Linked DNA regions of Homo sapiens. The protein of the gene in region 1 purifies or fractionates together with the protein of each later gene. This does not show direct contact. Each region holds a gene or a part of one and is shown on either strand. Other genes may lie near its edges. The genes, in order: RPRD1A, PKN3, RNGTT, VPS50, SUPT6H, BCL2L14 and DTX1.

The links.
Region 2: the proteins of RPRD1A (region 1) and PKN3 purify together in Homo sapiens (affinity purification with mass spectrometry, with the first as the bait; one large-scale study listed by BioGRID). This does not show direct contact.
Region 3: the proteins of RPRD1A (region 1) and RNGTT purify together in Homo sapiens (affinity purification with mass spectrometry, with the first as the bait; one large-scale study listed by BioGRID). This does not show direct contact.
Region 4: the proteins of RPRD1A (region 1) and VPS50 purify together in Homo sapiens (affinity purification with mass spectrometry, with the first as the bait; one large-scale study listed by BioGRID). This does not show direct contact.
Region 5: the proteins of RPRD1A (region 1) and SUPT6H purify together in Homo sapiens (affinity purification with mass spectrometry; one large-scale study listed by BioGRID and IntAct). This does not show direct contact.
Region 6: the proteins of RPRD1A (region 1) and BCL2L14 purify together in Homo sapiens (affinity purification with mass spectrometry, with the first as the bait; one study listed by BioGRID). This does not show direct contact.
Region 7: the proteins of RPRD1A (region 1) and DTX1 purify together in Homo sapiens (affinity purification with mass spectrometry, with the first as the bait; one study listed by BioGRID). This does not show direct contact.

What each region holds. Positions count from the first base shown.
Region 1 is NC_000018.10:36,057,116-36,061,355, reverse strand, and holds part of RPRD1A (regulation of nuclear pre-mRNA domain-containing protein 1A), read left to right. Parts: intron 1-4,240. UniProt on the Homo sapiens protein: Interacts with phosphorylated C-terminal heptapeptide repeat domain (CTD) of the largest RNA polymerase II subunit POLR2A, and participates in dephosphorylation of the CTD by RPAP2.
Region 2 is NC_000009.12:128,708,263-128,712,502, forward strand, and holds part of PKN3 (serine/threonine-protein kinase N3), read left to right. Parts: intron 1-4,240.
Region 3 is NC_000006.12:88,851,518-88,855,757, reverse strand, and holds part of RNGTT (mRNA-capping enzyme), read left to right. Parts: intron 1-1,993; coding exon 1,994-2,129; intron 2,130-4,240.
Region 4 is NC_000007.14:93,230,929-93,235,712, reverse strand, and holds the start of VPS50 (syndetin), read right to left. Parts: upstream 3,348-4,784; 5' UTR 3,246-3,347; coding exon 3,213-3,245; intron 1-3,212.
Region 5 is NC_000017.11:28,664,625-28,668,864, forward strand, and holds part of SUPT6H (transcription elongation factor SPT6), read left to right. Parts: intron 1-3,908; exon of another isoform or gene 3,909-4,006; intron 4,007-4,024; exon of another isoform or gene 4,025-4,240.
Region 6 is NC_000012.12:12,077,052-12,081,291, reverse strand, and holds part of BCL2L14 (apoptosis facilitator Bcl-2-like protein 14), read right to left. Parts: intron 3,587-4,240; exon of another isoform or gene 3,314-3,586; intron 1,994-3,313; 5' UTR 1,987-1,993; coding exon 1,554-1,986; intron 1-1,553. UniProt on the Homo sapiens protein: Plays a role in apoptosis.
Region 7 is NC_000012.12:113,054,848-113,059,777, reverse strand, and holds the start of DTX1 (E3 ubiquitin-protein ligase DTX1), read right to left. Parts: upstream 3,049-4,930; 5' UTR 2,834-3,048; intron 2,330-2,833; 5' UTR 1,586-2,329; coding exon 1,327-1,585; intron 1-1,326. UniProt on the Homo sapiens protein: Functions as a ubiquitin ligase protein in vivo, mediating ubiquitination and promoting degradation of MEKK1, suggesting that it may regulate the Notch pathway via some ubiquitin ligase activity.

The DNA.
Region 1 (4,240 bases):
CAACCCCTTAAAGTATGTTTACTCACCCTGTATTTATTGATTGTGTATTACAATGGTAAAGAAAACAAAGGGAAAACAGTTTATCCCTGCCCTCAGAATTTATAGTCTTGTGGTAAGGGCAACCAATAAACAAAAAATTTTAAATATAAATTTCGTGTTTAGTTCTTTGAAGGAGGAAATCTTTAGTTAGAGGGAAATCATCTCTGCAAGGTGACGTTTAATAAAAGACCTCTTTGAACAAGTTGCGGGGGTAGGGGGGCTTGGGCCTGCAGCCACTGGGAATATGTGAAAGTGCTGAGGTGATACATAGCTTTGGATGCAAAGAGCCAAACCTGGAAATGGTCAGCCTTTGAATGCCTGTTAACTTTGTTTCCTAAATTTTTTTTTTTTTATGAGACAGTGTCTCACTATGTTGCCGAGGCTGCTCTTGAACTCTTGGGCTCAGGTGATCTTCCTGCCTCAGCCTCCCGAGTAGCTGGGACTACAGGTGCACACTACCATGCTGGGCTTATTTTTTCTAGGGTTGGCAACAATTAAAATAATACATTATTTAAGGTTTAGATTTTCCTCCTATTTGTAATCATTTGTTGAAATCATCACTTTTTCAATAAGCTATGTTAGATATCTTTCAGGGAACTAATTACCATTTTATATTGTATTATAGGTTGGGGGGTTACATATTGGTTGTGAAGTAGATAGTGGGCTCCTTCAGGTTGTTTACCTATTTCAATTTTTAGCTCCCCAGCATACTGCGTTTGATGAAAGTTTTTAAATATTCGTTGAATTAACATTCGTATTCACTAATACGGCTTAAACTTGTAAGATGTGCTAAAATAAGTACTGTATATTCTTGGCTGTTCTTATTAATTTGGTTTTAGAAAAATGGAGAAGTGAAAGAACATTTTTCTTTTTTATTTTTTTTGAGACAGAGTCTCGCTTTGTTGCCCAGGCTGGAGTGCAGTGGCGCGATCTCGGTTCACTGCAACCTCCACCTTCCCGGGTTCATGCCATTCTCCTGTCTCAGCCTCCCAAGTAGCTGGGACTATAGGCGCCCGCCACCATGCCTGGCTAATTTTTTTGTATTTTTAGTAGAGATGGGGGTTTTACCGTGTTAGTCAGGATGGTCTCGATCTCCTGACCTCGTGATCCGCCCACCTTGGCCTCCCAAAGTGCTGGGATTACAAGCGCGAGCCACCACACCCGGCCAAAAGAACATTTTTCATTTGCTTTAAAAATATATAGCAATATAAATCCTAAAAATGAAGAGAGTCTGTTTTAAATTGACAGTTCAGTGGCTTTTATATTGTCTGATACTGTTACTTGTTTCTCTTTCAGAGTTAGAATTGAAAAAGTAAGTAGACAATGCTAGCACCTTCTAAGTTCTTATATTTAAAAGGATTAATGTTGTCAAACTGACATGGTGACTCCCATGTAGTCATCTTGCAGCTTCAATAGTTATAGTCTTTCTTAACACTTAAAAAAACTTAATTTCTTAAGATATCAAATATTGAGCCAGTATTTATTTCCGTGATCATTTCACTTTTTTAGAAGCCATTTGTTTGAATCAGGATCCAAGTAAAGTTCATTTATTGCAATTGATTACTATGTAAATAAAGTTCCTTTACATCTATGGGTGCCATCTGTCTTTTATTTTAAATGTATTCTTTGAAAAAATCAAATTGGTTGTTCCAAAGAAATTCTTATTCTAGACCAGGAATTTCTCCTACTTTCTGGTTTGAGGATCTCTTTACTCTTAAAAATTGAAGATTCTAAATCTTTTGTTTATGTGGGTTATATCTACCGCTAGTTACTACATTGGAAATTAAAACACTTAAAAATTTATTTAATAATTATTTGTTTTAAAACTATAATACTAAATCGATTCATGTTAAATAATATTTTAAAAATTTTTAATTAAGGCCAGGTATGGTGGTGCATGCCTGTAATCCCAGCACTTTGGGAGACTGAGGCAGGCAGATCACATGAGGTCAGGAGTTTGAGACCAGCCTGGGCAACATGGCAAAACCATGTCAGTACTAAAAATTTAAAAATTAGCCAGACGTGGTGGTGCACATCTGTAATCCCAGCTACTTGGGAGGCTGAGGCACAAGAATCACTTGAACCCGGGAAGCGGAGGTTGCAGTGAGCTGAGATTACTCCAAGCCTGGGTGACAGACTGTATCTCAAAAAAAAAAAGATTTTTAAAATTACAAATGGACACATTGTAATTGTATGTATTTATGGGATACAGTTTGATGTTTTGATAGATGTATATGTTGGTCTAATGATCAAATAAGGGTAGTTAGTATCCATTACCTCATGCAATTATCGTAACATAACATTTTTAATGAAAACCAATTATATTTGCTAAAAAATACCAGGGAAAGGAGTGATTATTTTACATTTTTCCAGATCTTTATAAGATCTCTCTTAATAGAAGCCTGCTGAATTCTCGTGTCTTTTTCTGCATTCAGTCTTGCTGTATCACATGACCTCTGCAAAACAACACTGTACGCTTGTGAGAGAATGAGAGTGAAAAAAGGCAAATAATAGATGAGCATTCTTGTGAAAGTAGTTCTGACTTAATTGACCCCATGAAAGTGTCTTGACCCCCTGGAATCCACAGACTGTTGGCTGAGAAGTGGACCATTTTCTGAATATTGATAATTAGATCAAGAGACTAGGATACATTGCTTTGCCTTAAGCAGACATATCCCTCTAAAATATTAATTCCCCAGAAAAGCAGAAACTGAATTTATAAAATTTCCCTTTGGCCCGTAACGTAATTTTATTTAGGTTCTCTTTCCTGTGACGTTAAGGTTTTTTAAAAAAAGTTGTTGATTTGATGTTTTTACATCTGATTCAACAAATTATCTCTACATTTCTTATAAAAATAAAAGTGTGTTCCTACATTAAACAAACAATCTGTAATTTTACAGGCTTTTTTTCTTGATAAAATAAATTTTTCATTCAAAATGTACAAGTAGAAGTTTCTTCTGTTGGTTTTCTGGCCGGGCGCAGTGGCTCATGCCTGTAATCCCAGCCAGCACTTTGGGAGGCTGAGGCGGGTGGATTGTTTGAGGCCAGGAGTTTGAGACCAGCCTGGGTAACGTGGCAAAACCCTGTCTCTACTAAAAATACAAAAATTAACAGGGTGTGGTGGTGCATGACTGTAGTCCCAGCTACCCAGGAGGCTGAGGTAGGAGGATTGCTTGAGTCTGGAGGCAGAGGTTGCAATGAGCCATGATCTGACCAGTGCAGTCTGGCCTGGGCAACAGAGTGAGACCCTGTCACAAAAAATACAAGAAGTTTCTTCTATTAGGTTTCTTTATTCAAGAAATACTTGTTGACCTCCTTACTGTCTTAGTGAACAAGGATGATTGAGCAGATAAAGGGACATACAGCTGTGTTCATGGAGCTTACATATCAGCCAGGCAAATGGACTTTGCCAAACTAGTAACTGCACAGTAATACAAAGGAGAAATGTAATTGGGAACCTATCCTAGTTTATGGAATCAGGGAAGGGTCCTTTGGTTTAAGATTTGAAGTATATGTAGAATTTACTAGGAGCTGTACCAAGAATATAGACATAGGTTTTAGCTGTTGTAATCATTTGAATGTGGTGTTATGTAGAACAGCATTATTTGACTTTTCAAATTGAACATTTCTGTTCATAAGTCCTTTCTGGAGGTAGACAGGATAATACACATTTAGATAAACTTTTATTTATTTATTTATTTTTTTGAGACAGGGTCTTACTCTCTCACCCAGGCTAGAGTGCAGTGGCATGATCTCAACTCACAGCAACCTCTGCCTCCTGGGCTTAAGCGATCCTCCCACTTCAGCCCCCTGAGTACTGGGACTATAGGTGCACACCACCATGCCTGGCTAATAATTTTTTTTGTATTTTTTGTAGAGACCGTGTTTGCCATATTGCCCAGGCTGGTCTCAAACTCCTGGGCTCAAGTGATCCTCCCGTTTTGGCCTCCCAAAGTGCTGGGATTACAGGCATGAGCCATGGAGCCTGGGCTAGATAAACGTTTAGTGTTTTATGTCTGAAAATAAGTGACTTAAGGTGTGTGTATGTGTGTGTGTGTGTGATATATATATATGTTTGTTGTTGTTGTTCTTGTTTTTTGAGAGACAGGGTTTGGCTCTGTTGCCCAGGCTGGAGTGTGGTGGCCAATCAAGGCCCACTGCAGCCCCAACCTCCCAGGCTCAATCAATCCTCCTGAGTAGC
Region 2 (4,240 bases), on another chromosome or scaffold:
TCCCAGCCACTCGGGAGGCTAAGGCAGGAGAATTGCTTGAACCCAGGAGGTGAGGTTGCAGTGAGCTGAGATTGCGCCGCTGCACTTCAGCCTAGGTAACAGGGCAAGACTCCATCTCAAAAAATAATAATAATAATTTCCTTGGAAAAAAAATAATAAAATTAAACTAAAATTGCTGGGTGCAGTGGCTCACACCTATAATCCTGGCACTTTGAGAGGCTGAGGTGGGAAGATTGCTTGAGCTCAGGAGTTTTTTTGAGACCCAGTCTCAAAAAAAAAAGAAAAAAAGAAAGTTTTCTTGGCTGGGCACAGTGGCTCAAGCCTGTAATTCCAGCACTTTGGGAGGCTGAGGTGGACGAATCATTTGAGCCCAGGATTTCTAGACGAGCCTGGGCAACATAGTGAAACCTCATCTTTAGAAACAAAAAAAATTAGCCGGGCGTGGTGGCGCATGCCTGTAATCCCATCTACTGGGGAGGCTGAGGCAAGAGAATTGCTTGAACCTGGGAGGCAGAGGTTGCAGTAAGCCAAGATTGCACTGTTGCACTCCAGCGTGGGTGACACAGCAAAACTCTTTCAAGAAAAAAAAAAAAAGAAAGAGTTTTCTGGTCTGGCTCAGTGGCTCATGTTTATAATCCTAGCAGTTTAGGAGGGTGAGGCATGTGGATCACTTGAGTCCAGGAGTTTGAAACCAGCCTGGGCAACATGACAAAGCTCCATCTCTACAAAAAATACAAAAATCGCCGGGCGCGGTGGCTCACGCCTGTAATCCCAGCACTTTGGGAGGCCGAGGCGGGCGGATCACGAGGTCAGGAGATCGAGACCATCCTGGCTAACACGGTGAAACCCTGTCTCCACTAAAAATACAAAAAATTAACCGGGCGTGGTGGCGGGCGCCTGTAGTCCCAGCTACTCGGGAGGCTGAGGCAGGAGAATGGCGGGAACCCCGGGGGGCGGAGCCTACAGTGAGCCGAGATCGCACCACTGCACTCCAGCCTGGGCCACAGCGAGACTCTGTCTCAAAAAAAAATAAAAAAATAAAAAAATTAGCCAGGTATGATGGTACGTACCTGTAGTCCCAGCTACTTGGGAGGCTGAGGTGGGAGGATTGCTTGAGCCCAGGGAGGTTGAGGGTACAATGAGCCATGATCGCGCCACTGCACTCCAGCCTGGGCAACAGAGAGCCCGTCTCAAAAAAAAAAAATTAGGCTGGGCACGGCAGCTCATGCCTGTAATCTCAGCACTTTGGGAGGCCGAGGTGGGTGGATCACCTGAGGTCGGGAGTTCGAGAGCAGCCTGACAAAAATGGAGAAACCCCGTCTCTACTAAAAAATACAAAATTAGCCGGGCCTGGTGGTGCATGCCTATAATCCCAGCTACTCAGGAGGCTAAAGCAGGAGAATTGCTTGAACCCGGGAGGTGGAGGTTGCAGTGAGCCAAGATGGCACCATTGGAATCCAGCCTGGGCAACAAGAGCAAAACTCTGTCTCAAAAAAAAAAAAAATTTGCAAAAATTAGCTGGGTGTGGTGGCGGGCGCCTGTAGTCCCAGCTACTCGGGAGGCTGAGGTGGGAGAATGGCATGAACCTGGGAGGCGGAGCTTGCAGTGAGCTGAGATTGTGCCACTGCACTCCAGCCTGGGTGACAGAGTGAGACTCCAAACAGAGTGAGACTCCGAGCAGAGTGAGACTCTGAGCTCTGTCACCCAGGCTGGAGTGCAGTGGCGCGATCTCGGCTCACTGCAAGCTCCTCTTCCCGGATTCATGCCATTCTCCTGTCTCAGCCTCCCGAGTAGCTGGGACTACAGGTGCCCGCCACCACACCTGGCTAATTTTTTGTTTTTGTATTTTTAGTAGAGACAAGGTTTCACCGTGTTAGCCAGGATGGTCTCGATCGCCTGACCTTGTGATCTGCCGGCCTAGGCCTCCCAAAGTGCTGGGACAGGTGTGAGCCACCGCGCCCGGCCAAAAAAGTTAATTTTCTTATCTTGCACTGAGATCTGTCTCCTTGTAGCAGCAGCCAAATCATCATCAACAAATAATCTGAGAGCATGGGCTTTGAAGCTGTATCCCACCGAGATACAGTGAGAGCTGGAAAGGCCAGTGCCTGTCTCCACAGAGCACTGCTACAGGGCCGACTGACCCCATTCCATTGTGAGCAGAGCTGAGAAGAGGAAATGCAGGCTCTGGATGGAGCCCTCTCACCTGGCCTTGGGGAATCGAGGAATATTTTCTTTTCTTTTTTTTTTGAGATGGAGTCTCGCACTGTCGCCCAGACTGGAGTGCAGTGGTGCGATATCAGCTCACTGCAACCTCCGCCTCCTGGGTTCAAGCAATTCTCCTGCCTCAGCTTCCCGAGTAGCTGGGATTACAGGCCTGCACCACCATGCCTGGCTAATTTTTGTATTATTAGTAGAGACAGAGTTTTGCCATGTTGGCCAGGCTGGTCTCAAACTCCTGACCTCAGGTGATCCATCTGCCTTGGCCTCCCAAAGTGCTGGGATTACAGGCGTGAGCCAACCATGCCCGGCCCAAGGAATGTTTTCTAGAGGAGGTGGTGTCTTGGCCTTGAAGGACTTACACGGGAGTACTTATGGCCAAGTAGACAAGTTGAGGAACGCAGAAGAAACAGCTTGTTAAAAGGCCTAGAAGTCAACTACTCAAGGCCACCCCATATCCTGTCCCCTGGCTAAACACCCCAGATACTTGAGTTGTCCTTTTTTTTTTTTGAGATGGAGTTTTGCTCTTATTGCCCAGGCTGGAGTGCAGTGACACGATCTTATTGCCCAGACTGGAGTGCAGTGGCGCAATCTTGGCTCACTGCAACCTCCGCCTCCCGGGTTCAAGCAATTCTCCTGCCTCAGCCTCTTGAATAGCTGGGATTACAGGCATGTACCACCACACCTGGCGAATTTTTATATTTTCAGTAGAGATGGGATTTCTCCATGTTGGTCAGGCTGGTCTCGAACTTCCGACCTCAGGTGATTTGCCCGCCTTGGCCTCCCAAAGTGCTGGGATTACAGGCGTGAGCCACCTCGCCCCACCTCTTTTTTTTTTTTTTTTGGAGACAGAGTCTTGCTCTGTCGCCCAGGCCGGATTGCAGTGGTGTGATTTCGGCTCACTGCAAGCTCTGCCTCCCGGGTTCACGCCATTCTTCTGCCTCAGCCTCTCGAGTAGCTGGGACTAACTACAGGCGCCCGCCACTGCGCCCGGCTAATTTTTTGTATTTTTAGTAGAGACGAGGTTTCACCATGGTCTTGATCTCCTGACCTCGTGATCTGCCCACCTCGGCCTCCCAAAGTGCTGGGATTACAGGTGTGAGCCACCACGCCCGGCCTTTTTTTTGGGGGGGGTGGGGGACAGAGTCTTGCTTTGTCGCCCAGGCTGGAGTGCAGTGGCATAATCTTGACTCACTGCAACCTCCGCCTCCCAGGTTCAAGCGATTCTCCTGCCTCAGCCTCCCAAGTAGTTGGGATTACAGGCGCCCACCGCCATGCCCGGCTAATATTTGTATTTTTAGTAGAGACAGAGTTTCACCATGTTGGCCAGGCTGGTCTCGAACTCCCGACCTCAGGTGATCCACCTGCCTCAGCCTACCAAAGTGCTGGGATTACAGGTGTGAGCCACCACGCCCGGCCTCAAGTTTTTGTTTTGTTTGTTTTTTTTTGAGCTGGAGTCTTGCTCTGTCGCCCAGGCTGGAGTGCAATGGCACAATATTGGCTCACTGCAACCTCTGCCTCCCGGGTTCAAGTGATTCTCCTGCCTCAGCCTTCCGAGTAGCTGGGATTACAGGTGCCCACCATCATGCCCGGCTGGTTTTTGTATTTTTAGTTGGGATGGGGTTTCGCCATGTTGGTCAGGCTGGGCTTGAACTCCTGACCTCAGGTGATCTGCCTGCCTTGGTCTCCCAAAGTGTTGGGATTACAGGCATGAGCCACTGCGCCCGGCCGAGCTGTTCTTTCTAAGCTTCTCTTTCTACCCTGGACCCCTGCCTTTGTTTACAAGTTCTCTCTGTGTGTAACCCCCAGGCCCAGACTCTCCCTAAATGATACTCTTGGGCCTGCTTCGTGTCCTCAAAAGCTGCTAGATCCCCACTGCTTTCTCTACCCTTTGAGGGACAACCCTCTAGTGACGTGACACATGAACTTACTCCGTTGACAAAACACGTTTCATATCCATTGGGAGAGGTGGGGCAGAGCTGGGACTCACCTCCACTGTTCAGATGGGGAAACTGAGGCCCAG
Region 3 (4,240 bases), on another chromosome or scaffold:
CTGGCATTTGGTCTAGGAGTCTTTCAGATACACAGTCAGTCCAGACTGAGGCTGAATTTATTTTTCCTAGTGAAACCTGAGTCCCCACACTCCCCATCTACTAGGGCTGCAGCTATTATAGCAAGGGCCTGAGCTCTCCATCTGCTCCCCAGACACCTGCTGGAACTAATTATCATTATTATTAAAACTTTAAAAAAATTTTTTTCTATTATGTTGCCTTTTTTCCTTTCCTTTTTCTTTTTTCACTTTTTTTTTTTTTGGAACTGATTATTTTGGAAACAGCAAAGAACAACATACTTCACAATCTAATCCAAAAACATAAGCCCCTTTGGTCTTCCATGCTGCTCTTTTCCATTTTGTTTGTACACTTGTTTTCCCTTCATCAGCTCTCCTATTTCTCCTCACCTATCCTAAACATGTGTACTTTGCTCTTCAGAACATTGGTTTGTGGTTAGCCAGTTATCCACTATTATATTAGCTTCCATATACTCTGTTAGCTTGCATGTCTTCATGTAATATTTCTTCTGTCCCCTAATCTTAACTTGATTCAGCTGCATCTTTCAGTCGTTGCTGCCTTTTTTTTGGACATACCTCAGGTACTTTGCGGGTAGGAGGTTGGGCAGTCTGGTCAGTGTTCTCTTTCATTTTCGTTGGTACCTCCAGACCACTCTTCTTCCATTCTTTCATTTAACACCAAACACCAAACAAAAACAGCCTAACAAAATGATTCTGTTTCTTTGAGGCTTATGCCTTTTAACTTTCTAATCTTTTTTGCTATAAATTTTTTCTCATTCTTTGAAGACTTTGGTTCTTGGATTTGATCTTCATTTTCACCCCAAGTCTTCTTATTATCCATTTGGTAGCATAGCTTCCCAGACTGTAATGTCTTCAACATCAGTCCATCTGGACTTTATATGTGGTGTGAAATAGAACTCCATTCTTGATTTGCTGATGGGAAATCAGTGATGATAACCTAACCATTTGAAGAATGACAGGTTGTTAAGTGTATGAATTCCCCCATATGTTGATTGAGTTTAAGAAGATAAGAGATAATTGAAAATCTTATGGCTGTGTTTAAAAATATTTTAATTTTATAGTCATAAATGAGAAGAAAAGTTATACCTGATATTGTGGTACCTGGCTATATCATGATATTGATTCAAAGAGAGGGATTAGCTGTTTTGCTAACAGGTATGGTAGAAAGAGCACTGGATAATTTAAAGTCTGGCAAATGGCAAATCACTTAATGTTTTTCACTGCTTTTTTCTATTTTGAAGTGGAGAGAATACCTAATCCATATAGTTATTGAGCTAGTAAAGTACATTTATATATGTGTATATGTGTATTTTGTAAACTTTGAAAGGCTTCAATGTTTAAGATCTCATAAAAATTAGAGAACCATTCTCTGTTAGGATGGATTCATAAGGTTACTCCTGAATATCACATTATCTCCATAAAAAACTTAGAATTCCCTATACTCTGTGTTTTCTATAGGAAATGAAAAAAGTTAAAAAAATTATTATTTGTGGACTAGGCGTGGTGGCTCATCGCTGTAATCGCAGCACTTTGGGAGGCTGAGGTGGGCAGATCACTTGAGGCCAGGAGTTCGCGACCAACATAGTGAAACCCCATCTCTACTAAAAAAAAGAAAGAAAAAACAAACAAATTAGCTGGGCATGGTGGCACACACCTGTAATTCCAGCTACTCTGGAGGCTGAGGCACAAGAATTGCTTGAACCTGGGAGGCGGAGGTTGCAGTGAGCCAAGGTTGTGCCACTGTACTCCATCCAGCCTGGGCAACAGAGGAAGACTCTGTCTCCAAAAAAAAAAAAAAAATTATTATTTGTGATACTTTAATCTACATGATAAAGAGACTCCAGTGAACATTAGTCTACAGATGTTTAAGGTCTATGGAAAACCAGTATGTTATTTCTCATGACCCTGTTCTTGATATTATACTGTAAATATTAGCTTTTTAATGTTTCATTTACAGGTACATGATGTTGATTGATGGCACAAATGAAGTTTTTATGATTGATAGAGACAATTCAGTATTTCATGTTTCAAATCTGGAATTTCCATTTCGTAAAGATCTTCGTATGCATTTATCAAATACTCTCTTGGATGGCGTAAGTCATATTTATGTATACTATAAAATTAAACATTGCCATTTTTCTTTTCCTTGTAAGTAAATGTGTATTTCTGTTGGTTAAGAAATTTCGAATGAAATCTAACTTTTTTTTTTTTTTTTTTGAGACGGAGTCTCGCTCTGTCGCCCAGGCTGGAGTGCAGTGGCGGGATCTCGGTTCACTGCAACCTTTGCCTCCTGGGTTCAAGTGATTCTCCTGCCTTAGCCTCCCCAGTAGCTGGGATTACAGGCATGTGCCACCACGCCCGGCTAATTTTTGGATTTTTAGTAGAGAAGGTGTTTCACATGTTGGTCAGGCTGGTCTTGAACTCCTGACCTCGTGATCCACCCGCCTCAGCCTCCCAGAGTGCTGGGATTACAGGCATGAGCCACTGCGCCCAGCCAAATCTAACTTTTATTAGGATGTTAAATTTCATTTATTTCTTATGTATACTTATATTGAATTAAGGTCCTCTTAAAGAGAGATCTGCCAACTGAATCTTTGAGCATAAGTAAGACTTTGAGATATTTTCTTTGGTGGAGAAATTTGTTAAAGATATGTAAAGGGTGTTAAATGAGTGCTCTGGTCAAATATGTATACATATGGATAGTTATATAATTTTGCATGAAGAGAAACATATGTTACATGTGGTTAGTAACTTGTCTTTTTCCCCACACTTAGCAATGTGTTTTGGACATCTTTTTCACATAAATGTCTGAATGGTTTACCATTGTGTATATAGAGACCATAAATTGGGGTTTCCAAACTATCTTGACTGTGAAAATTGTAGGGTTAAAAAATTGCTTGTTTAAAATATGACCCTTTCCAATAGCATATCCTAGACCATATGAATTGGAATCTCCCAGGGGCCTACATGTCCGTACAAGTGACCAAGTGATTGTAATTAGGCAAGTTTGAGAAATAGTTCTGTAATTTATTTAACCAGTTCCCTTTTGTTGGACATTTTGATTTTTGTATTTTTTCCTGTATCTAGTAAATTTTCATTCCTGTGACAGCATGAGTAACAAAATACCACTTTCTAATAAAAATGATATATATATACATATGTACATGTATATGTATCTATATGTGTATAGATTTAACTATCATAGTTAATGTGACTGGTACCCTTGGGGTTGTATAGTACATAAAAGTCATAGTCATTTGTGGCAGCTCTGGTAGTTGGTTCATGGGAACAGCAGGAACATTTTAGTTTTTGTTATCTTTATTTAAGGTACTTTTTTTAGCATTATAATTAATAAAATATAAGAAAGGAAAAGACTTAAGTAATAGCATTTGTCAAAGTTTAGTATAGTTTATAATTGAACTAATGTTTGTTGAGTGCCTATTATGAGTTGCTATACCAAGAGTACGGGTATTGCTTAGAGGGTTGAGGAGAAGGCCTCACCCTTGAAACATTTTGCTTAATTGAGCAGGGTGGAGAATGAATGGTAATGATGGAAGAGACCTTTGAATAAAACAATAACCCAAAGAGAGGTATTTAAGTCCTGAGGTAGTTTAGAGGAGAAATAAATCACATCTAGTTAGTTAGGAACTAAATATGTTTTGTGTAGGAGTTGGCATTAGAAACAGAAAGATTTCTATAGAAAGATTTTTGATGGACGTGGGCTGAGGGCATTCTAGGTAGGAAATAATGCTTAAAAATTAGATATTTAACCATCTACAGATTTAACTTAGCAATACTATTTATTTCACCTCAAACTTGGATAACTGAGAGCGGCATAATAGATTCTTGTGAAGTTTTAAAAATAGCAGTATGATTCATGATGTCAATTTACTTGGGCTAGAATTATAGTTGCCATATCTGTTTTTTTTTGTTAATTAAAACAGTCCTGTAGTTTCCTGTTTCTTCTACATTTTCATGTGCAAATTGTTTTTGTAAAATTCCAAATCCAAGAATAATTCAAACCACCTAATTGTCTGACTGTCAGATGTGAGCATTGAAGCTTTTGTTTTGCTTTGCTTAACTATGTTCTTTGACCTATAAAATGTGGAAAATAGGAATTTAGAAATACTGCATTAATTCACTTGAAACACATCAGTGAAATTTAATCAACTTAATATTGAGACTAAGATAAGAATATAGCAGT
Region 4 (4,784 bases), on another chromosome or scaffold:
CCTCCCTCAGTTTTATCCATCCGAGGAAATGGCAATTACATTCTTCCAATTGCTAGGGCCAAACTATTTTGAGTCATCCTTGATGCTTCTCTTTCCCTCACAGCCCAAACCCAATCTGTCAGGAAATTCTGTCACCTCTACATTTACAGCATATTCACAGTCTGACCTCTTTCAACACTTCCACCACTAGGGTGGAAGGCTTACACCCACCCTCTCACCTGGATTACCACAGTAGCCTCATCATTCACCTCCCCTGGTTTTGCTCTTTTCCGCTCTTCAATCTGTTCTTAAAACATGGGTCCAAATGGTCTGTCTGAAGTGTTATGTCCAATTATATCATTCCTCTATTTGCCATTTCACTCAGAATGAAAGCCATGACCTTGCTATTACCTATAAGGTACTACATGATCTAGCTTCCTGCCTTCAGTCATCTAACCTCATCCTAACCTCATCTCCCACTACTCTTCTCCTCACTCACTTCACCCACACAGGCCACTTGCAATTTCTCAAACAAGCTCCTGCCTCAGGACCTCTGCATTTGCCTTTCCTTCCACTGGAAATGCTCCTTCCCAAATATCTACCTCACAGAGTTCACTTCCTCACCCCCTTCAGGTTTTTTTATATTACCTTCTCTGTGAGGCCTTCCGTGGCCATCCTATCTAAAATTATAAGTGACCTCAAATCACCAACAATTCCCAGGACTTTCTATCCTCTTTTCCTCTACAGTGTTTATCACCGTGTCTGCCTTAACACTTGTCTATTTTTTTTTTTTTACTTAGAATAGTACCTGGCACAAATTGCTCAATAAACATTTGTTGAATGGACTGAAAGAACAGAGGTGAGCATGATGGAGAAAGATGAAGAACAGATCTCATCTAAATAAAGAGAGCTAACAAAGCCTTCCTTCCTCCCATTATTTTGCAAACAAAGATCCCAGGACAGCTGAAATGTCCCAAAGCTTAAATTTCACAGACCTTAATTTCCTATCTCTCCATATTAACTCAATATATATTATTAGCACATTCTATAGGTTCAAAAAAAGAAATACTTTCATGTATACTTACTTGTAATCCTATTAAATTTAACCCAATAATAAACTGTACTAATTCAAACCCTCAATGTAAATAGCAGGCACACTAATTTCATACCTCATAGATTCAGGAACTGTGCATCAGTATCAAATATGTGAAAGTCAAGCCATAACATATATAATTAGGATAACTTTAAATATGTATGCAAAACTCCTAATTTTACCTCACTTTGTACACAGTATGGTTCCAGCTTTTTGTATGTGTTCTTTAATGTATTTTTTTCCATTTCAATTAAACACAGGTTTGACCTGCTGAAATTCAATAAGCAACTGACTAAGGCTTAAGTGTTACCATTTTCAGCACAATTGCATTACATTTAGGAGACATACACTTATCACTGCTATCTGAAATTTTTTTCTCTCCTCAGTTTTACAAAATGAGGTCAAAAAAACTAAACCAACCACAGCTACCATACAATTATGACAACGTTAACTACACTGAACTGTATGGCAGGCAACAAACTTGAGACAGCATCAAACAGCTGATGCACAAAAGTCCAAATTCAGCATTCCAAAGGCAGTTTAGAGGTATTAGTGATATAAAGTACAAAAGTATATATTGATTTAAAAATCAAACAGGTACCGAAGTCAGCATGAACTTATCTATTGCTTGAATTACTGCAACAGCCTGCTTCCAATTTTCCTGCTTTCCCACCATCAACATAGCCAATGTAACTAACGGTCTCTGCGTTCAAGCACTTCCTTGATAATGCCCAGGAACTCCGTTAACGCCTTAAACTCTTTAACTTCATTATATCATGTAAACACCACTATCAGGCTAACTCCATAAGGCACACATTATTCCTATTTTAAAGATGTGGAAATAGATGCTTAAAAACGTTATGTAACTTGCCGAAAGTCACACAGCTGCCACAGGATACAGCAGGACCCAAACTCATCGTCAAGTAAGAAGTAGTAGGACGCACAACACCAGTACTCAACACATGTGAGGAATTAACAAATGTTACTAGCCACTTACTTAAATATTTTTATTATTCACAGAACATTTTGATTATATTTTCATAACATTAACAAAATGCTCTGACATAACTAAAATAATCATGTAAGGGTCATTTGTGCATTGTGCAAGAGAAATACACAATTTGTATCCTGTTTATATATCTCTCAAATTGTGAATTCTCAAATAAGAATGTGGAATTTGAGTTATTTTTGTAATCAACAAGAAAAAAACTCACAAATATACCTTTCACTAAACGATTACCTTCCACATTCTCCAAACTTCTAAAAGCCATGTTGATTTAAAACTCTAATCTTAACTATCTTTCATATTAAAATAATAAAATGACCAATTCTAGTGAAATATTAAAGCTGAAGTAAATAAAGGCAGCTAAAACAAAGTCATAATCAATAAGTACATAAAAGAAAATTTCTGCACTTCTTAAATGAAGCTGAGGCATTATTACGAGGTCCCTAACATTTATGAGACAGGTTACAAAATAGCCAAAGCTCTTATTCATGAATTTCCATTCTGGGGAAAAAAAAGAAAAGATCAGTATTTTGCCATGACAAAAATAAATTTTTTAAAGCAGAATTTCACAAAGAGTTTTCACATATATTAGCTTATCGATGACCCTCATAACAGAACTGTGAAGTAAAATGAACAAAAATAATTATTTTCACATCCAGAAACGTAAGCTACAAAGTTTGGGGACTTGCCCAAAATCCAAAAGCTACTAATTCTGTCTTCAAATCATCCGTTTTCAGTCTTTCCAGGTCACCTCTACTGCACAGACCACACCACCCTACCCAGGCTATCAGCTCGCATATGACAGACAGCCTGGATGCGGAAGACCTTGCAAGGAAGCTCGGGCTGTTCTGGAAAGACGGCAAAAAGAGGAGGAGGGGAGACAAAGATACCCTGATTCCTTCAATGACTTATTTTTAAACGAATATTTCTGGGAGGCTGGTACCCGCTGGAGCAGTGCTCCAACCCAGGCGGCCCAGGTGAGTTTTCTAGGGTATGCCCCGGCTTCCCAGTCCCCCTGACACCTGCCACCACCCATAACTTAGATCCCCGCCCGCCACTGGTTGGGGACAGAACATCTCGGCTCCTCTCACTTCCGAGATGAAGGAAGCCTTTGCTTCAGCCGCCGCGACTTACCTGTCGGGTCATGAGAGATTTGATTTTTTGCATATCGAAATCCTGAGGAGGGTACCCTGCCTCAAAGAGCTAACAAATCACACCGAGCCACTACACAGCTGGCCCTGACACTAGGAAGCCATAGTGGGTGGTCACGTGGAGGAGCCGACCCAGGGTATCCTGTCTTTCCCTGGGCCTGCTGGGAACTGTAGTCTTCTGGACGCCGGCGGTAGCAACGATGAACTAAAGTGGCCAACCCAGGGACTACATCTCCCAGCAAGCAAAAGAGCGGGTGCTTCAGTTAAGCCGGTAAATATTACTGCTCAGAGCGACCACTGCGATCGCCGGTCTTACAAAGGTGCTTGCACTAGGCAGTAGCTACTCTTCGGCGAGACGGAAACCTAAGTCACAGGTGACTAGGCGTTGAGCGAAAGATCAAACTCAGAGGAGACAATATATAAGCCAGATTGACGCGATGTCCCCTAGGAGTGTGAGGGAGGAAACCTCACCTGGTCTAGAGGGGCGGGGTGGGAGAACGAGAGACTGACGCGAAGGAGAAGGAACTCAAGAAAGGGCTGTCACTGAGGGGTAACCTGAGAACTCGAGACTACCCCGGGCGCGCTGGGTTTGGCCTGAGGAAAGGTGTGCTCTAGGTTGCCCAATAGGCGGCCCTCCAGGTTTAGGGCTGTTCTACCTCAGTCTTGGTATCCCCTGCAAAAGCTCTAAAATCGAAGGATTTTGACGCCCGCCTATTATTTTACCTCCGTACTCTAAAGCAGTGATGACGGGAAATACGACAATAACGAGTATACCTGTCACTTTAAAGTCCTCTTTTCAACTTTTGGCAGTTTAGTTAAATTGGGGAAAGGAACAGAAGTGTCTTTGGGGACACAATTTTAAAAGGACTTTACAATTATGAGAATATGAGAAGAAGAAGAAAAAGCAGCCCTAAAGCTAACAATGATAGCTAACACTTATCGAAAGCCGAGTACCTGTCAGGAACTGCTAATAGCTTTAAATATATGATTTCATTTATCCACACAAGAATCCTGTGGGTTCCCATTTTAAAGATGACGAAGCAGGTATGGCGAAATTAAGGAACTTGCCTAAGATTACTGCAGATGTGCAAGTAGAAACTGAAGGATTAATCGGTCATCAGATGTGTTAAGATTTTCATGTATTGTGCTGAAGAAAGTTCTAAAGCATGGCACCAATTTTTTTAAGTTTATTTTATTATAATGTTAACTTCTAAAAGTATGACACAGACCCATAATTTCAAAAATATTTCTTAGAATAAAAAAAGTTCAAGTGTGTCAACGTAATAAAAAATACTAGGTAAACAATAGTATGGGTGGTAGTCAGATATGGCAAAACTAATAAAGGTGATTTGCAAATGACTGAAGTTTGGGGGACACTAACAGAGGTTATTTCTGATTCTGAAATTCTATTTTCTCACCCCTTAGAGCCTCGTTTTATTAATTTTTACAAATGAGGTTGTAATATTTTAATATTTTATATAGGGCTTTGTAAGGATAAGTGAGATGATGTAGGTGAATGAAATGTATAAATTGTAAAGCACTATACAATTATGAG
Region 5 (4,240 bases), on another chromosome or scaffold:
AAGTTTAAATCTCTAGTCCAGCCCTCTCCTCTATGTTGCAGAATCACGCGTCAAAAATGCCTGTTTAATTATCTCCATTTGGATATTTCTTAGGCACCCAAAGCTAACATAACCAAAAGAAAGTTTTGGTTTTCTCATCATTGCAAACCTTATCCTCCCGTTTCACTGAGTGGTGCTCCTATCCGCAGGGTTACCAAAGATAGACCTCTGAGAATCATCTTTGTTCTTCTCCTTTACTACTCCTCTTCCCCAGTCTTTCAGTAAGTCTTGTCACTTCCACTTGCAGAATGTTTTTGTAATCTGTCTTCTATTCTCCATCTTCACTTTTACCACCTTATTCCAAGCCACCACCATCTTTTGCCTGGGCTACCACAACAGTATCTTCAGTTTTCCCTGGTTTCCACTCAGATCTTCCTCCAGTTCATTTTCCATGTAACAGAATTGGATCAGGGCAGATCATGTCATTTCCCTACTTAAAACTCTCCAGTGACTTTCCATGGCCTTTACGCCCTGCTTGAGCATACCTCTCCCTCATAGGCTGCTGCCTTCACCATGCTCTAGTGCCATCAGCCTCAGGACATCACCTATTATATACCATGTTCTTGCCCACTTTCTCTACTGGAACCTCTCCTCCTACTTCTACAGGTCATATCCTACCTATTGACATCTCAGCCTAAGTAAACTCACTTTAGATGAGATGAGAATATGCATTTCCTTCTTCGCTTTTAGAGCAAGGTTTATTTTATTTGTTGCCAATATGTCTCCTGCACCAGAATACGGGCATCCTAGGGGCATGGACCTAGTCTTGTACGTGCCTGGCATGTGGTAGGCACTCATTAAATACATATTTATGCCAGGCATGGTGGTTCACGCCTATAATCCCAACACTTTGGGAGGCTGAGGCAGGCGGATCACCTGAGGTCAGGAGCTCGAGCCCAGGCTGGCCAACATGGTGAAACCCCGTCTCTGTTAAAGATACAAAGAAAAAATTAGCTGGACGTGGTGGTGGGTGCCTGTAATCCCAGCTACTTGGGAGGCTGAGGCAGGAGAATTGCTTGAACCTGGGAGGCGGAGGTTGCAGTGAGCTGAGATCGTGCCACTACACTCCAAGCCTGGGCAATGGAGCGAGACTCTGTCTCAAAAAAACGTATATGTATATGTATATGTATTTGTCCTAGCTACCTGGGAGGCTGAGGTGAGATTATGGCTTGAGCCCAGGAGGTGGAGGCTGCAGTGAGATGTAATCACACCACTGCACTCCAGTCTGGGTGACAGAGCAGGACCCCATCTCAGAAAATAATAAGTTTTTGTTGGATTAGCAAGTAGATTAAGTTCAGTTCTACATTTAAAACCCTGCAATGGCTTCCCAGTGCCTAGATCCTTATGACTTCTCCAACCCTTATGAACCATTCTTCCTCTCCTGGGCCTTCTCTGTACCTGCCACAGTACACGTGTTGTGCTAGAAGCACACGTCTCTGACATCACTCCCCAAACCATCTCCAAAGAAGCCAGCTCCTCTGCTGAACTAATTCCTCCTTACTCTTAAGGTCTTTGTTTAAAGTCACTTCCTCAAAACCAGGTTAGGTTGTCTTATTACAGGATCCCATGCTATTCTTATCATCAATTCTCTAAATCAGGGGTCACAAACTAAGGCCTGTGAGCCAAATAAGGTCACCCCCATTCATTTACATGTTATGTATGCTGTGCTACAGTGGCAGATTTGGCCCTATAGAGAAAAGGAAAGGTTTGCCAACCCCTGTGCTAGAGCAGGAACTATGCGCTCCTCAATGTGTGTACCACAAGGTTCAGTAACTGTTAATCTCTCTTTGTGTTGCAGGGGTTCTGAATCTGGTTACATATTTCAGTTGTACTCTTCTTTAGCCCTTACCCTGTTTCTCTAAAGAAATGTGGAAAGAAAAGGAATACTTTTTTTTTTTTTTTTTTTGAGACGGAGTCTCGCTCTGTCACCTTGGCTGGAGTGCAATGGCATGATCTCGACTCACTGCAAGCTCTGACTCCCACGTTCAAGCGATTCTCCTGCCTCAGCCTCCTGAGTAGCTGGGATTACAGGCGTGCACCACCACACCCGGCTAATTTTTGTATTTTTAGTGGAGACAGGGTTTCATCATGCTGGCCAGGCTGGTCTCGAGCGTCTGACCTGACCTGAAGTGATCAGCCTGCCTCAGCCTCCCAAAGTGCTGGCATTATAGGCGTGAGCCACCGCGCCCAGCCGAATAAATAATATTTTTAAATGAACAAAATTAACTTTTTCTGTATTTTAACATCTTGACTTCATGTAATTAGGTTTTCAGGGTTTTTTTAATTACAAAGCCTTCTGAATTCCAGATTTAAAAGGACTTAAGTAGACTCTAAATACTTTTATCTATTAAACTTTTAGGTTTTGAAATTCCAAATTGGATATTCACTTATGGATACCTTTGGAATAGTCCTAGTCCCTTGCCCATAAAATATAGGATACAAGTGTAATCCCAGCACTATGAGAGGCTGAGACGGGCGGATCACAAGGTCAGGAGATTGAGACTATCCTGGCTAACACGGTGAAACCCCGTCTCTACTAAAAATACAAAAAAAAAAAAATAGCTGGGCGTGGTGGTGGGCACCTGTAGTCCCAGCTGCTTGGGAGGTTGAGGCAGGAGAATGGCGTGACCCCAGGAGGCGGAGCTTGCAGTGAGCCCAGATCATGCCACTGCACTCCAGCCTGGGTAACTGAGCAAGACTCCGTCTCAAAAAAAAAAAAAAAAAAAAAAAAGTGTGTGTGTGTATATATATATATATATATATATATATATATGTATGTGTGTGTGTATACATATGTATGTATATGTGTATATATGTGTGTGTATATATGTATATGTGTATATATATATAAATACGTGTGTGTGTGTGTGTTTTATATATATATATGTATATATGATACAAGACAACATGGAATGTCTTGTAGCTTAAACTCCACCCTAGACTTCTGGGGCTGTTCTCCAGAGCACCACGCCTAAATGTTTGCTCATGTTGCCTTTTTCCAGACTGTTTTCTTAAATCCTCTTTTATTCAGGCATCACCTTTTCTCAGATATTCCCCAACCTTCCCATTGCTCTCATAGTCCAGTTATATAACTTAACATAACCCTATTGTGCTTTGTCATAACGTTATTAACAAGTTTTTTGAGATAGATTGTGAACTCCACCAAGACTGTGAACTCCACCGGGGTAGGAAGCATATTTTACTCATTTTTATATACACAAGTCCCAGCACAGAGCTTGACTCTAAAAAAAAAAAACCCAGCAAATGTTAATTGAAGCTGCAAAGTGGAAGGAATTAACAGACTAGATCTCTTTTCACTCTGGTCTCCTCTTAATTGCCTACTACAACTTCTTGTTCAAAGGGAGGGACTGCAGAGGGCCTCCCTTGTGGCAATCTGATCCCAGTTCCATTCCTCTTCCAGCGAATGTCATGGTAACCACCAGCCTCTCCCATTGAGCCACATCTTGTTCTGCAGCTGTGCTTCTGACTAGAGAAACCTCTCCCTCCATCTCCCCACTGCCCTTCTAGACCTATTCCAGTTGCAAATTTAACTTACAGTGTGAGTATGGGGAAAATTTTAAGAGCATAAGTGCTAAATACAACATCCAAACTACATCAGGCTCATCATAGATACCATGTATTAATAATAATCATACACAAATAAATACATTAGTGTCTTTATTCTAGAGTAGTTCCCGCTTGTCAGTCTCAGACTGCAGTGCTACTGCAGTCTGCACATCTAGCTCCTGCAAGTTGCAGCAAGTCAGAATTGCTTCTGGCACACCTCTTATAACTGGAAGTCTTGGTATTGAGCTAGATTGGAGGCATTCCCCAGCTATAGCATAGTGTGTGCTTTATTGCTAACCTAGGCGATGGGAAGAAAGAGAACACAGCTATCTTTCCAAGCTGTGTGCAGCATGGAGCACCAGCTGCCCTTGAGACAGAAGAAAGCTGTTGTTTTCATCAGGTAGGCTGTGTGTTTCTCTGTTAAGTAGGCTGAGGGGCATCTGGTCTGCAGGAGCTGGCATTTAATTTGAAGATGTTGAGGCCTTAAAAGATTGAACTTGTGGGTCTGATAGCCTAATTAGAACAAGCTATGTGTGGGGGCTGCCGTACTCAAATCTGTTTTTAATGGCTCAGTTCAGGGCTGAGGGGGAGCAATGTCAAAATTAAAATTAGAGCTCTAGATTTAATTGGCAGA
Region 6 (4,240 bases), on another chromosome or scaffold:
TTTTTTAATGGAGACAGGGTCTTGCTATGATGCCAGGCTGATCTCAAACTCTTGGTGTCAAGTGATCCTCCTGCCTTGGTTTCCCACAGTGCTGAGAGTATCGACGTGATGGGCTCTCACTCTGTCACCCAGGCTGGAGTGCAGTGGCATCATCTTGGCTCACTGCAACCTCTACTTCCCAGGCTCAAGCCATCCTCCCACCTCAGCCTCCCGAGTAGCCAGGACCACAGGCGTGCACCACCATGTCTGACTAATTTTTTTGTATTTTTTGGTAGAGACAGGGTTTTGCCATGTTGCTAAGGCTGGTCTTGAACTCCTGAGCTCAACCGATCCACCCACCTTGGCCTCCCAAAGTGCTGGGATTACAGGTATGAGCCTCAGTGCCTGGTGAAAATGTTTCATTAAGTACAATTAATTTTGTCCAACTGAGGGAAGATTTTGTCTAAATGCTTCTCAGTTGTTTTTGTAGGATGGTTTGTACTTTGTCAAGAGTCCTTTTACTCTTGCTCTCTGATCTTCCCATCAACCATACGAGGTGGAGAGAGTGGGGTACCCAATGTACAGATGGAAACACAGAGGCCCTGAGCGAATGAGTTGACTTAGGAAGAGCAGCGGCCCAGGCAGCCCAAGCAAGCCCCTGGTTAGGGCTCGTTCTTTTTTTTTTTTTTTTTTGAGACAAAGTCTTACCCTGTAGCTCAGGCTGGAGTGCAGTGATGCAATCTCGGCTCACTGCAACCTCCGCCTCCCAGGTTCAAGCGATTCTCTTGCCCCAGCCTCCCGAGTAGCTGGGAATACAAGCATGCGCCACCATGCCCGGCTAATTTTTTGTATCTTTAGTAGAGACGGGTTTTCACTATGTTGGCCAGGCTAGTCTTGAACTCCTGACCTTATGATCTGCCCACCTCAACCTTCCAAAGTGCTGGAATTACAGGCATGAGCCACTGCGCCTAGCCTCCTTCTTTTATATTGGTGTCTGGTACAGAGGACTAGGAATTTGGGAAACAAGCTTATTTATAGACAGTGGAGAAAGAAAACCAGTCCCAGCACCCTTAACTTCCATCATTTCCTTTTAGTCATTTTTTTTTTTTTGACGGAGTCTCACTCTGTCACCCAAGCTGGAGTGCAGTGATGCCATCTTGGCTCACTGCAAGCTCCGCCTGCTGGGTTCACGCCATTCTCCTGCCTCAGCCTCCCGAGTAGCTGGGACTACAGGCACCCGCCAACACGCCCGGCTAATTTTTTGTATTTTTTAGTGGAGACGGGGTTTTACCGTGTTAGCCAGGATGGTCTCAATCTCCTGACCTCATGATCCACCCGCCTTGGCCTCCCAGAGTGCTGGGATTACAGGCGTGAGCCACCGCGCCCAGGCAGCAACTCCTTTTAGTCTTGAGAAAAGCAGGGCAATTATGATTGAACACTAATAAGTTGGAAAGCTGAGGCACAACGCATGCCTTCTCTAAAGCCACTTTACAACATGAGAAGAGATGTACCACTCTGGACACAAAGAAGGGAAAAACCAGGAAGCGGGAGAGAAAGAAATCCCAGATGCCTACCTTCATGCTCCAAGCACTGCTCCACGTTAGAAAGACACCTGGACCACTGCTGGCTGTGCGAATCTTGGTATTCCAACGTCCTTTGACCCTGAGCAGAGACCTTGGCAGGCGTGCTCTGCGAATCTTCCTTCTCCACTACTCCAAAGAATGCTTTCCAAGAAGACTTTTTCTTGCCAAGGTTTATGGCCTTCTCACTGGATTGGGAATTTCTGCAAGGCCATGACACCTCTGTCCATGACTCATTTGCTGAACAATTCCCCAGGCCCCTCTGGGACAAACTTCTTGTTCTCAGCAGCTTTGGTGAGAAGAGAGCAGGGGTGCTCTTGAAGACATGATGTCTGGTGTAGTAGGCGAGGATTTTGAATTCTATGGTGTTTAGGTCATCATCATCTAGGGGGATTTCTTCCAGGTCACACCCACTGGTGCTACACATGTTGGGCCTGTAACAACAAAGTCCACACTGTGCCCTTCTATGCAGGGCCACTTACCCTTTGCAGGTTAGGAGAGACAGGGGTGAAAACTCAGGAAACATTTATTGAACATCTATTGTGTTTGTGCTGGAGGGTAGAGAGGGAAAAGCCACAGTCTTACTAGGGTGGGAAGAGAGACATGGCCATAGATAACTCCACATAAAGAAAATGAACTGCCGGGTGCGGTGGCTCACGCCTGTAATCCCAAAACTTTGGGAGGCCAAGGCGGGCAGATCATGAGGTCAGGAGTTCAAGACCAGCCTGGCCTATACAGTGAAAGCCCGTCTCTACTAAAGATACAAAAATTAGCCAGGCATGGTGGCGCACGCCTGTAGACCCGGCTACTTGGGAGGCTGCGGCAGAAGAATCGCTTGAACCCAGGAGTCGGGGGTTGTAGTGAGCTGAGATTGCGCCACTGCACTCCAGCCTGGCGACAGAGTGAGACTCCGTCTCAAAAAACAAAAAACAACAGAGAGAGAATGAACTAATGAACTAAGTAAGAGGTCTAACAGAGATGCAGATAGCCAGGTTAGAAGGCAGGGATAGGTGAGCTTCAAAGAAAGAGGCAAGTGAAAGCTTTTGGAAAGCTAGAAGGAGTTAGACAGGTGGGTGGATATTGGGGCTACAACAGGGCGGGCAGAGGGGAGATTATAGGTGAATTCAGAATGTGTTTGAAGAGTGGTGAGAGAACTGGGACAGCATACGTATGCAGTTTGCAAATAGCCAGGGCTTGAAAATAGTGGAGGGAAAATAAGTGAACTAGCACTTGGGTCCAGATTATGGTGGTCTTTGACTATCAGGCTGAAGCTTCGCATTTTCTCACGTTGATCAGTACATTTCAAAATGAGCTGTGGACTGTGGAGTTAAAGGTCTTGCTGGGGAGGTGGCAAAAGAGGGAGGCCAATTCAGGGAAGAGAAATGCCTGGGACCTGACCCTTCCCTTCCTCGGTTCCTTCTCCCTCTACCCTCTGCTTTAGCTTGTCCCGGCTTCTCTCTCCTCTCTCTCTCTCTTTCTTTTTTCTTGCTATATTTGGTATGCCATGTAAGATTTCATCTGAAAAAAGCATCCTGTTATTTTATTTTACTTTTTACGAATTTGAAACACACTGATGGAGGCAATGGAGAGCTGTTCAAAGTTTTGAGTAGAGAGTGATGTGATCACAGGCATGTTTGAAAAAGATCAGTACAAGCACTAAAACAACAGGATGCAAGCATTTCTTCTTTATTTCCATACGAATAACAGGATAGATAAAGAACTGATTTTGTTCAATTTCCTTTGCTTGAGCTTACATGAAATAACTCCTTCTCTGGTTTCCTGCTAGGAAAGCAGTTCTTTTTGCTAATAATCTGTTTCCTTCTGCTGTCTGTTAAGGACTACATTTTCCTTTTAGTCTCAGATGCGAGAAAGCTCAGATCTACCGTGTGAAATGTCCCAGGCAGTGAGCGTATCAAGAATTAGCTTGGGCTTCTCAGTCTAACAGTCCCAAATTCAGATTGTGGCCATGCCAGTGACTAGTTTTGTGACCTGTGGCAGGTTACTCCATCTCTCCAAACATGAACTTCCTGCAGGCAAATTGTAAATAATAATAGTCATCTTGCAGGGATATTGTAAGGGTGTAAGATACACAAGAGAAGTTCCTGCACAGAACCTGGTTCAAAAGTGGTAGCTATGTTTTTTTTCTAGTTCAGCTGTTGTCCTAGGCCCCAGGCTCTCTTTTTTTTTTTTTTTTTGAGACTCAGTTTTGCTCTGTTGCCCAGGCTGGAGTGCAGATCATAGCTCACCACAGCCTCAACCTCCCCGGCTCAAGGGATTCTCTCACCTCAGCCCCTCAAGTAGCTGGGAACACAGGCACATGCCACCACACCTGGCTAATTTTTTTGTTTTGTCTTTTAGAGACAAGGTCTCGCTATGTTGCCCAGTCTGGTGCGAAACTCCTGGGCTCAAGTGATCCACCTGCCTCAGCCTCCCAAAGTGCTGAGATTACAGCCATGAGCTACCATGCCCGGCCTCAGGCTCTGTCTTAATATGGCTCTTAATAATGTTCCCTTCCCTTTCTGGTCCTAATTTAAGACGGTCTTTCGGCATGTAAGCTGCTGTGATGATAAAGAAGCTGCAGTAATATTAAGGGGACTGGCTGGCATGTTCCTCTTTTTCTTTCCACTGTACCTTGTCATACCAGGACCAAATGATAAAGAAATGGGACAGTAACTGCAGAC
Region 7 (4,930 bases), on another chromosome or scaffold:
GGCACAGCTCTAGAGGGAAAGCGAGCATCCTACCAGCCTGGGGTTATTACGTGTGGTTCTGTCATCCAGGGATTCATAGGAACTTCCCCAAACCCCATCAGCTGGTCCTTGGGGGGTCAAACATGCCAAGGATTTCTAGGCTGCTTCTGCACGGCAGGACCCCACCAGTCCCCACTGCCCATGGAGCTTGTCACAGATACCACCGGGCAATGACTCAGGGAGATCTCCCCAACGATGACAAATCTCCAGAACAAAAGAGAGTAGGCCTGAGAGTGGGACCTCATCGATTTTATCTCCATCATCAGCCATCACATTACCACCAACGCAACCATCAACATCACCATCATTACAACCACAACAGGATCACCAATACCACTAAGTAACAGCCACACACAGGGCTACCAGCCACACCACATGGCCACGAAGACTGCCACCAACATCATTCTCTCATTTTCTCCATCATCACCACCCCATCACACCACTTCCAGCACCACCACCAACACAACTATCAATGTCACCAACACCACTGAATCCCATGGTTAACGCTATCACTGACATCACCACCAACACTGCCACGTCACCATCATCCATCCCTCCATTGTCACCAAGACCCCACCACCATCAATACTATCACTGAGTCACCACCAACACAACCGCTAACACTGTCTCCTCCATCATTGCCACCTCACCCCACCATCAACACCACCAACGCCCCCCATCCCCAATTAATTACCACCAGCACGACTCCACCCCACAAACCAACACTTGGAGCCAGTATAGGATACCAGTTAAGAACTTTGGTTCTGGAACTCAACCGCCTGGGTTTAAATCCCAGCTCTGAGTTTAAATCACTCAGCTTCTGGGAGACTCGGTTTCTTCATCTATAAAATGGGACTCATAATAATACAACAATACACAGACTTACTGCCTGTGATTCTTGGGAAAAATCAAATGAGGAAGTGCATGTAAAGCCCTTATTCTACAATCCCATGCTACTGCTGTTCTAGGTTCTGTGCTCAGTGAGCACAATTTTATTTAATCCTCACTCAGCTGTGAGAGATATTGATCTACCCATTTTGCAGATGAGGAAACTGAGGCTCAGAGAGATGATGCAACTTGCTCAAGGCCCTACAGCTTGCTCAGAGGCTGCATTGGAATCCAAGTCTTAAACTGGACAAGGTTAGACTGCCCTGTTTTTCTGGAGGTGAGGCAGGGAGATGGGGAAGGGATTTGGCATCAGCAGATTTACTGGGATTTTCAGCATCCTACGCTGCAAGGTAGTGATGGCTCGGCGGGGCGGGTGGCATGGGGTGGGTGTCTGCTCACCTGTGTCCTGGCGAAACTGGTGCATGGACTGCAGGTCGATGATGTAGGGCACAAGCTGGGCGTCCACCTGCCCCAGGACCACGGAACCGCGAGCGTCCTCCTTCAGCACGTTCTCAATGTGGTGGCACACGGTGGCCGTGTAGGGCCGCCAGCGGCTGTGCTCATTCAGCCACTCCCACACCACCACCCGGGCCACGTTCTGCGGTGGGAAGCCCAGACCATTCACAGGCATCAGCCCACCGTGGCCTGGCCGTGACATGGCCGCCACTGCCTCAGGGGCCAGGTCCCCCACTATTGCAGGCCCAGCTCCTCCTGGGCCTGGCAGCAGGCGGCAACTTCCTCTCTCCCCAGGGGGACAGCAAGGACCGTCTGGCCTCCTTTCTAACTCTGGGTTCTCTCTGAGGCCTAGAGACCTCCGTTAAAGGAATGTGGGATGGCCATCCAGGCTGCAAAGACCCCTTCCCTGTAGAGCCTTCTCCGATAAAGGGTGCTGCCCTGGAAAGCAAGTGTCTCTCTTATGCCGGAGGAAACAGCTCTAAAGTCCTTGGCCCCCTCGGCTGGCTCAGGTAGGGAGTGAGGCAGCCGCCCCTGTTCGAGGTCCAGCCTCTTCCGTGTTGTCTCTTGGTCCCTCTTCCCCGCCAGACAGGGCCTGTCACCCAGGAGGCCTGGGCCACAGCCTGCTGCTCCTGCGGCTCTCAGCCAGCCCTTTGCACTCCCAACTGCGTCCCAGACCCTGCGCCCGGCTTCAGTGGGGCTTCTCGCCTCCCTCCGGTCTGGGCCCCCTTCTCCGACGGCTCCTGCCGAAGGGGGCGTCCCTGCCCCCTTGTTCCCTCTCCACGGTGTCCTGGAAGGCCTGGGTGGCCGCAGAACGCACGGGGGAGGGGTGCGGCGTGGACCCTCGGGCGGCGCGCCTGGACTGCGGCTCCGGAGCTGGGCTGGGGGACGAGGGGGACGAGGGGGGCGGGGGCCCGTGGGCACGCCCCACCCCACTCGTGCTCGCGACCTGCCAGGAGACAAGAGGGGAGAGGGCCCTTTAAGAGGAGAGCGCAGCACCCCCTCCCCCCTTCCCAGGAGAGCATTCGGCTGAGAACAATGGGGAACCGAAGGGGGACAGCAAGGGGGGCGTACGGGGTCGCCCCGCCCGCTTTCCCTTGGGGCAGGCCTGGAGGGAAGGCAGGGGCCGGGGGCGCGGTTTTCCGAGACTCTCCGCCTGGGGGGCGCCCTCCTTGGCTCCCGGAGCCTTCCCTTCCCCCGGGGCCCTCGCCCTGCCGGGGGGATGCCGGGTGCGCTGGGGTGCGCCGGGAAGCACGGGGATGCGCGGCGCTGCAGGCGCGGCCCAGGGCCCCTCGGGGGTCGCGTCGCGGAGGGGGCGAAGCCAGGAGCTGGATCGTCTCTGCCTCCCGCCCTGGGGGTAACAGCCCCGCTTCCCCAGCCCAGACGTCCCCGAGCCGCTCGCGGGCCCCCAGCGGGAGCCGGGGGTGGGGTCCCTAAGCACCCGCGTTCTCACCGCCTCTCTTCGTCTCCGGCTCCGGCTCCGGCTCGCGCTCCAGCACCGCCGCCTCCTGGGCTCCCCCCGGAGTGGGAGGGAGCCGCGGTCCCGCCTCCGCGCCCGTTCCCTCCCAGGCCCCTCGGCCGCCGCGCCGAGCTTTCCGCGCGTGGACAGACTGCCCGGCCGACGGACGGACGCAGGAGCCGGCTGGCGGCCGCCGGGATCTCGCGGGTGGGAGGAGGCCTCGGCCGTGCTCCGGGAGGGAGAGGGGAGGGGGCGGAGGAGGAGGAAGGGGAGGAGACAGATCTCGGCCCTGAGCGCCACCGGCGCTGACACGCGAGTCTCGGGGCGCCCCAAATCCTCGGCCAGGCCCTCCCGAGACCCCAAGGGGCCTTCTGACCCCAAGCAGAGCGTGAGGCAGGGAGTGGGATGTTTAGGAGTCACCGGCTTGAATCTTTGTCATCTTTATTTCCAGTCTCCCAGTCCAGGGCCTGGCACTGAATAGGTGCTCAATAAATGCTTGAATGAATGAATAAGATCCAGAGACTGTCTAAAGAAAGATCTTGAAGCATTCAGAGCTAGCCTCCTTTCCTCCTCTAACTATTCCTGGGGGTGGGAGGGTGCTGACAAGGCCTGATTCAGACTCAGTTGGAACCGTGGAATCTGAAGAGTACAGATGAGGAGACTGAAGCCAGAGAGAGTAAGAGCCAGGCCCAGGATCACAAAAGCTTAGAGCGATGCCCAGACACCAACCCCGATCTGAATCTCCTGCCAGTACCCAGTTCCCAGCCCTGAGCCCACTTCCCCCAAAGCACCCACCTGCTCCAGGTGAGAGGGGTGGGACCAGGGGAGGGGACCCTGGCCAGGAGGTGAGATCCTGGAGGAAGAGAAGGGCAGGCCCTCTGCCATGTCATTCACAGCCACCTGCAAACAACTGGTGCTCAATAAATGGTGGGTGAGCATTGGTTGGATGGAAGGGAAGGCTGGAAATGGCAGCGGCTCAAGTGTTAACGGGATGGCCAGTCCCCCTGTCCTCCAGCAAGCTGGATGCGGCTGAGACACACATTGGCTGGGAGGGGGGTGGACCACCTGGGGCCTGGGGGTGTTTAGATTGGGGAAGATGAAGGATGCGTCCGGGAACTCCAGCCTGGGTGGCTGACGGGGGTCAGTGGCCTGTTTGGGCGCCTGCCCAGAGCAGCCCACGCCTGCCTCCCCGGGGCAGATGGGGATACACTAGGCAGGGTCAGGGGCAGGCTGCTCAGGGGTGCTTTCCCAGAATCCAGCTCTGGCTCTCCGGCCAGCTGGAGGGACCTCCCCTCCCCAGGCCCCTGCTCTGACCTGCAGCCCAGTGTTGGATGGGCTTTTTCAGATTGGGTCAATGATTCTGCTTGCTTTCACCTGCTGTAGACTAAAGAGAGAGGCTTTGCATAGGGCAGGGCCAAGTCTGACGATACTCCCACAGGATCACTGAGTTCTGGGATTTTAGCCTAGGGTCCCTGGATGGCCTTCTGGGGTCCATGAAGTCCCCCTCTCCCATTACAGGCAAACTTGTGTGTCTAGGCATTGTGTGTCTTGTATGTCTGGGAAGAAGGGCTCTGGCTGTCAGCAGATTCTTCTCACAGGAGACTGTGACTGAACGGATTCAGAGCAGGTGCTCAACCAGCTTATGTTGTAGAAGGATCTGGGGATCCCACAGTGGAGAAGAGATTGGCTCAAGGTCGCATGGTGATTTAGCAGCAAATTGGAAAGAAGAACTCGTGTCTCTGGACTTCCTGTCGAATGCTATTTAAGGTCTGATTAAATGTCACCTCCTCCAGGAAGCCTTTCCTGAATTCACCCCATCTTCCTCTGTGTTCCTTTGCCCATACCTTGACATGACACCCTGTATCACAATTAGCCTCTTAAATGAAATCTGTCCCTGCTAGAGTGAGATAGCCATCATATTCATCTTGGTGTGGTGTGGCTGGTGCCCCATTACATAAGGGTGTCATTTACTGAGTGCCTATTATGTGCCAGGCACTTAAATAATACTTACTACTCTTCATAACTGCCCCACAAGGAAGGTAATGTTGTCCTCATTTTACACAAGGAAACAAAAAACCTCCTGAAGCTCAG